Linked DNA regions of Homo sapiens. The protein of the gene in region 2 purifies or fractionates together with the protein of the main gene of each other region. This does not show direct contact. Each region holds a gene or a part of one and is shown on either strand. Other genes may lie near its edges.

What was found. Proteins that work in one complex are often made in the same cells at the same time.
Region 1: the proteins of SLC28A2 (region 2) and RBM26 purify together in Homo sapiens (affinity purification with mass spectrometry; one large-scale study listed by BioGRID and IntAct). This does not show direct contact.

What each region holds. Positions count from the first base shown.
Region 1 is NC_000013.11:79,322,433-79,326,443, reverse strand, and holds part of RBM26 (RNA-binding protein 26), read left to right. Parts: intron 1-3,981; coding exon 3,982-4,011. UniProt on the Homo sapiens protein: May be involved in the turnover of nuclear polyadenylated (pA+) RNA.
Region 2 is NC_000015.10:45,265,554-45,269,564, reverse strand, and holds part of SLC28A2 (sodium/nucleoside cotransporter 2), read right to left. Parts: intron 3,983-4,011; coding exon 3,902-3,982; intron 3,485-3,901; coding exon 3,404-3,484; intron 2,111-3,403; coding exon 1,985-2,110; intron 1,900-1,984; coding exon 1,769-1,899; intron 1,356-1,768; coding exon 1,187-1,355; intron 228-1,186; coding exon 30-227; intron 1-29.

The DNA.
Region 1 (4,011 bases), on a different chromosome or scaffold from region 2:
TAGGTCCACTTTCACCTTTTTGACCACTACGTCCTAGCCCAAGTAGGCATCCTGTAGAGCACATTTAAACATGGTGTTCCTTAACATTTTATAAATGGCTATACAGTTCACTTTTAAAAATATATTTTAATGGAATTTTAAAGTACATGCATAACTCTTGAAGCACTGCCATAGCATACTTTAAAAAGTTATTTGCATTAATTATTCGTACTGTTTAAAAGCAGTACAAAGCAGATAATGTAGTACAATACAGTTCAGAAATAGACCTAAGTTTATACAATCATGTGCCACTTAAGAGGGATATGACCTGAAAAATGTGTTGTTAGACAATTTCATTGTTGTGTACACATCACAGAGTGTATTTACACAAACATAAATGATATAACCTACTACACACCTACACTCTATGGTATATAGCCCGTTGGTCTTAGGCTACGAAACTCTGGCATTGTGTTAACTATACTGAATACTGAGGCACTTGTAACACAATGGTAAGTATTTGTGTAGGCAAACATATCTAAACATAGAAAAGGTACAGTAAAAATAGGGTATAAAAGATAAAACATGGTATACCTGTATGGGGTACCTACCATGAATGGCATTTGCAGGACTGGAAATTGCTCTGGGTGAGTTAGTGAGTGAATGTAAAGGCCTAGAACATTACCATCGTATTTTATAAACTCGTACTTTAGACCTTATAAACACTGTACACTTAGGCTATACTAAGTTTATAAGAACATTTTATCTTTCTTTAATAATAAATTAACCTTAGTTTGCTCTAGCTTTTACTTTTAAACTTTACAATTTTTAAAAACTTTTTGACTCTTGTAACGCCACTTAGCATAAAACAGACACGTTGCACAGCTGTACAAAAATACTTTCTTTATATCCTTATTCAATAAGCTTTTGTCTATTTTTAACATTTTTTTATGTTTTACTTTTTAAACTTTTAATTAAAAACTAAGACACAAACACATACATTAGTCTATGTCTAAACATGGTCAGAATCATCAGTATCACCGTTTTCTACCTTTACGTCTTGTCCCACTGGAAAGTCTTGAGGGGCAGTAACACACACACAGCTGTCATAGGCAATGTGTGTATTATAGGCTGAGGCCTACGATAACAGTTCCTTCTTCTGAAATACCTCCTGAGGAAACTGCCTGAGGCTGTTTTATAATTAACTTAAAAAAAATTAGAGTACACTCTAAAATAATGATAAAGAGTATAGTATAGTAAATATGTAAACTAGTAACAGTCGTTTGCCACCATATTCAAGTATTATGCTGTACATAATTGTGCGTGCCATACTTTTATATGACTGGACTGGCAGCACAATCGGTTTGTTTACACCAGTATCACCATGTGAGTAATGTATTATGATAGTTATAAGGTCACTAAGCAATAGGAATTTTTCAGGTTTATTAAAATCTTAGGGGACCACTTTTGTATATAGTCATTGTTGACCAAAACATTGTTCTGTGGTGGCTGACTTTATGAGGATTTTAATGGATCACAAAGGAGTTGTTTTAAATCAAGGAATAAAACAAGTTATTCAGTAAATGATGTTGGGGCAATTGACTAGCTATTTGGAAAAAAGACAGCATTATGTCTTTTTTAAATATCCAAATAAATTAAATTGGATGAATTTTTTTTCTTTTTTTAATACATAAAACATTTAATACATGCTACAAAATTCTTTTTTTTAAATAGTAAAATCCTAGGGATTTAAAAAAAATAGTCTTAATATTGAGAGGGCTTTTTAAGGTATGGCACGATATTCATAAAGGAAAATATTGGTAAATTCCAGTACATGAAAAATTTAAAACTTGTTGATGACAAAAACAAAAGAACAACAACAACCCCTTTCTCTCCAATAAAAGGTGCATCATAAAATCAAAATCCAATCGGGGAAAATATTTTGCCCAAAATATCACCAAACTTCATTCAATTAGAAAAATACAAGCAGGCCAGATTGTGAAAAAAGTCAAACATTTCACTTCTAATAGAAAGTCACACAAGATGTACAAATACACAAGATTGTTCATATCTGTAGAAATTGCTTTAATTATGCTAAATATATAATATATATGGCCATTCAAGAAAAGTGACATTTATTGGTATGGACATCGAGAGATATTTATGAAAAGAATTGGGTTAATAATTTAACCATGAAGTTATAAACTAGTATGTTTCCGTATACATACCATACATATTTATATACAGAAGTTCTTTCAGTATGTGTGTAGAAAAATATATGTAGGATTTAACTCCGAATTCCTCACAGAATAGTGGTTATCTCTTAGGGCTAGGGATAATCATGGACTGCTTTTTTACATTACGTGGCCTGAAATTTTGAATCTTTGTAAAAAGTGAAATGGGTGGGTTACAGAAGGAATTGTTTAAACTTTAAAGATTTTATGTTGCAATTACCTGAAATATTGGTTTCTTGAACTTTTCTAATATAAAACAATAGTTTTATCAAAATGAAAGTAATTATGGAATATGTTTCTTATAACATCAGAAGTTCTTAGTTTTCCTGAGTAAATTTACATCTTTACAAAGCAAAAACTCAGTTCTTTCAAAAATTTACACAGCCTAATTCTCAAGTTTGTAATGGAGCAATGTTAATAAAAAGTTTGTAAATCATTTTGTAATTAAAGTTGAAACTTTAGAAAGTTGTAGCCTCATCTTATAGATTTGAGGAGCTGTGTGCTGAATATAGAGATGTGTAAAGTTAGATCATCAGAAATTTTTGTCAGTAACTTATTTTTGAAAATGTCAGTAACTCTTTTGCTTTTTAGGTGAATTTTTTTTAGCTGAATGTAAGGATGAGTTTTATGAGTAGGTATTTTGCATTAAACAGTTGGAATTCCTTATAGAATATGATACATTTTTATGTAACAGTGATAGCTTCAAAAAATTGCAAATTGTCCTGGAACTAAAATACATATAAGTACTTTTTAAAAAAATTCTAGTTGTATGACATTGTGACAAAAATTCTCTGAGCAGCATTTGAACAGGCATGAAATCTTTTAAATTTATCATAAATTTATATGTGCAGGTTTAAAATTTATACCTGGGGATTTTAATACCACACAACTTATGTCAAATATCATTGAATATGTAATTGTTTCTACATTTCACATTATGCTGTACTTTGAGATTGTATTATAAATCTTGTGTGAGTATAAGTTATTTGGCAATATGTTGCTAACACTGATTTACCTTAGTTCATGTTACTCTAATTTGAATGCAGTTTCCAAACCAGCCACTTAATATAGCAAGTACTTAGACATGACTATTTTTTAAGTTCACGTTTTATATTCAGTTATAAAAGTTTGGTAGGAAAAACTGTTTTTCAATAGAAGAGTTCAGAGGGGTTTTTTTTCCTTTCATTGAGACACTTATATTTTGTTTTAGTTTTATAATAAACATTTTATGGTAGTTGGTCATTTGATGTAATTTGAAAATAATATACTTTACACATGCAAAATTATTATTAAAGATTAATAATTATATACCATTTGTAAATGAACAGTAATTGAAATAAAATATATTTAGCATATTGATCCTAATTTAGACATTGATTCAGACATTAAAACTAGGATCTTGAAGTACCTTGGGATTGTCATCTTAAACAGCAGTTGTCATTGTGTTATAAACATGTAGACATATTTCTTTTAGTCAAATATTGGCCAGTAGTGAAATAGCTATATTTTATTATGAGAAATTATTCTTGTTTTCTTTTTAAAGGAATTTGCAATTACTAGTCTGATTGTAGGAGTAAATAACCATAAAAAGTAAAGTGTAAATTATAATAATAGTAAATTGAATAGTAAATAATCAAAAAGCAAATGGGCAGATAGCCATCTTCAGTTGTCTTTAGCTATTTTAATTTTAATGTTAGGCACTATGACATTTATTTTTTTCTTCAGAAATTTTTAATGTCTTATATTCCAATATTTTTAATCATTTTAGGCTGCAGTTCATGGAGCTCGTTTCAAAGGG
Region 2 (4,011 bases):
GTGTTTATGCTTTTTGGATTGTCACTTACAGAAATCCACTGTTTCTCTCCCTCAATCCACTCCTCCATTCCAGAGAGACGTTTGTTCTTGTATTGAGACAGTTGCTGATAAGCCACAAACTCATTTATGAAGAACTTGATTCCCACCATCTCAGCCACCATTGGACAGTCTGTCCACTCTACACCCATCATGAAAACCATGGGCCTTAGGAGATAGGAGCAGATGACCTGAGTGAAAGAGAGATATCACAGGAAAAGGAAGGACTAATATAACAAAGGTCAGGTGCCAAGGACCTTCTCTGGAGCCTTGGCCCAATCTCTTCCACCCTTCTATTCATGCTCTCTCTTGGCTTACTGTGGGTCAGAAGGACATGCATGGTTGTTTTTTTTTTATTATTATTATACTTTAAGTCTTAGGGTACATGTGCACAATGTGCAGGTTAGTTACATATGTATACATGTGGCATGCTGGTGTGCTGCACCCATCAACTCGTCATTTAGCATTAGGTATATCTCCTAATGCCATCCCTCCCCCCTCCCCCCACCCCACAACAGTCCCCAGAGTGTGATGTTCCCTTTCCTGTGTCCATGTGTTCCCATTGTTCAATTCCCACCTATGAGTGAGAACATGTGGTGTTTGGTTTTTTGTCCTTGCAATAGTTTACTGAGAATGATGATTTCCAATTTCATCCATGTCCCTACAAAGGACGTGAACTCATCATTTTTTATGGCTGCATAGTATTCCATGGTGTATATATGCCACATTTTCTTAATCCAGTCTATCATTGTTGGACATTTGGATTGGTTCCAAGTCTTTGCTAATGTGAATAGTGCCGCAATAAACATACGTGTGCATGTGTCTTTATAGCAGCATGATTTATAGTCCTTTGGGTATATACCCAGTAATGGGATGGCTGGGTCAAATGGTATTTCTAGTTCTAGATCCCTGAGGAGTCACCACACTGACTTCCACAATAGTTGAACTAGTTTACAGTCCTACCAACAGTGTAAAAGTGTTCCTATTTCTCCACATCCTCTCCAGCACCTGTTGTTTCCTGACTTTTTAATGATTGCCATTCTAACTGGTGTGAGATGGTATCTCATTGTGGTTTTGATTTGGACATGCATGTTTGAAGGGCTACCTAACCACATCCCAGAGGGACAGCCCAACAAATGTAATCCTTTACCTGGAAAGTGAGCCCCTGTATGTCCACCAATTCCCCCAGCCAGGAGAGGGCAGCATTGATGAAGGCCAACACAGCCAAAAAGGCAATCAGGTTGGCTGCTACATTAGTAGCAAGGCCTATGGCATCTACGGCTCCGTTGCTGGCAGCTTCCAGGACATTCCTCTCCTTCCTGTGGTTATTGGGCAGAGGGCAAGAGTAGGGTGTCTACAGCAGTCTCAGCCCCTCAGAGAAGAGAAATCCCACTGTCCCTATCGTGCAGGAGGAGGGTGCAAGGCCAATGTAGAAGGTGACAGGGGTTCCTCAGTGACCCTATTAGTGGAAATTACTCTGAAGCAATATCAGATATAATTGTCATGTAATTGCATGGATGGCAAGGACAGAGGGTACTGGCATGCAGAAGCTAGTGCCAGGTGGGAGGGTTAAATGAAGAAAACCAGCATGATTAGCAAGCACCAGAGATAGGCAAGAAGGAATATGGAATCACATTATTCCCCCTCAGGGAGACTTGAAGTCTCTGCCACCACAGTGCCACTCTTAACTACAGCTCACCATCTCCCAAAGTATATGCCTCCTTGGACTCACCCACGGGGCAGCTTTACCCCCTCCTCACTCTTGAACTTGGACTCCTCCACTTCCGGATACGCTAGCTTTGATGAGGCGAGAGCACAAGGGGCGGCCATCACAGAGGCAGAAATCAGGGATGATGCATCAACCTGTGAGGCGCCAGACTTAGGCATCAGTGTTTCTATCAAACCCAACTCGAGTTCACCCAGGAGTGATCAAGCAGACTATGCCTACCCCAAAGGCTATGAAGGCTCCCAGCACAGTGCCAGAAATGGTGGCAAACCCTCCAGTCATCACCGCATGGATTTCAGAGAGTGTCATGTCCCCAAGGTAGGGACGGATGAGCAGAGGTGCCTCTGTCTACAAACACGGAGAAAACAGTCAGATTCCAAGAAGGTGTAACTCCCCATGCCAGTGTGCCCACCCCAGCCCCAGGGGCTGGACCCACTAGATACACATCCATCCAGTGTGAGCACTGTTAAGTGAGCCACAGCTTCACTTAGTGAGCACGGAGCCCGGCTGTCAGGCCCATCCAGCTTCTGCCTTACTTCCTCTGGCACCCAATCATGTCCTGGCTGGCATAGTTCTCACCTGTTTCTATACATGCTTGTTTCATCTATTGACATGTTAAAATGTTATAGAAGAGAAATGGTATATTTTGTTTGTATATTCTCAATGTCTAAAGCCACACACTTACTGAACTTACGGAATGCAGTGCACTTAATGAGAACATATTAGATGCTTAAACAGTACTCATTAAATGAAATACAAATAGATGATCCAAACCCCCTGCTTATGGATCAAAAGAAATAATGTTTGTGAAAATGTTATGAAATTATGAAGGGCCATCTATGTAAGCCATATCCAGCACTGACCTAAGATAATGGTATCTATTATTTAACAAGTACCAACTATGTGCCTAGCACTGCACTAGATGCTAAGGACATTGATATAGGTAAGGCAAAGTCCTTACTCTTAGAAGCTTATAGTCTCACATAGGAAACTAGGCTGATTATGGATAATTTCAGCAAAATGTGGAGTGCTATGGTAAAGTATCCAGAAGTACTCTGAGAACATTTCAGAAGCAGCCTAGAGCCTTGGGAGAGAAAGACCTCAGTACTAACTCCCTGCGAATGTGACAAGTCATTGTCCCCAACATTGAGCTGATCAGTCAGTAGCACATATGGAGCACCTACTCCATACAGACGAATGTACCAAGCAAGTATTATGGGGAAGAGCCTGGGCGTTAGCGATGAGCAAGATAAGTGATTTCCTCCTTAGAGACCCTGGAAACCAAGTACTGCAGGGAGTCACAGGGAGAAACCAGAATGAGGATCAAACACCCTTCATAGCCTCCGAAAGGGGATATGAATTGGACGAGGACATTCCCTACATTCCTACGTAGGAAGTGTTCATTAGAAGTGGTGAAGGCTATCCCTCCAGATTAAGTATTACCAGGGAAGTATTATTAGGCGCAAAGGGTGAACGCAATGAGCAGAGTCTTCTTTGAGCTGCTGAGTTATCTCTCATCCAAGATTGGCTGCCCCACAGTCTTCATTTATTTGACTTTTCAGAAGGAAAGCATACTCTTGTTTTGTGCCAAATTCTCAGTTCCTCAGAGGGAAGAAGACCAAAAGTCCTCAAGGTGCTTACCATACCCACAAAGATGTTTCCTGCCACAGCCAGGGTCTCTGTAGCAGTGGTGCCCATAGTGATTTGTAAAAACCAGGCGACCTAGAAGAATACAGAAACCTAAACCATTAATGTTAGCAGGAATCTTGGAGAACATCTCGCAAAACTCCTCCTCCTCCACTTTACTGATAAGGAAACTGAGGCCTAGAGAAGTAGAGCAGCAAGCCTAGGGCCAAAAACCAACTTAGAAACAGAGCCTTGACCAGAACTCAGGACTCGTTGCCTTTAGAACAAGTACATTAAAACTCAGTATCAAAGGCAGTCCAGCTCATCTTCTCTCTGCTCTGCCCTCAGCCTACCTAGGGCCTCGGCTGACAGTTTGCTATCAGGCATGCTTGAGAGGGCCTGCCTTTTCCCATTGTTTCTAACACTCTAGACCTTAGCTATGGGCATTTTTCCAAAGCTGACTGATGACAGGATGAAGGCCTGTCTCCTGACTGGTGTAAGAGAACGACTCACCTTCTGAACTACCCATTGCACAAGGCCCAGGTAGTAGAGAATGGACACCACACATCCAAAGAAAATGATGATTGGTAAGGCCTGTAATGAGAATGGTAGCAGGTGGTGAG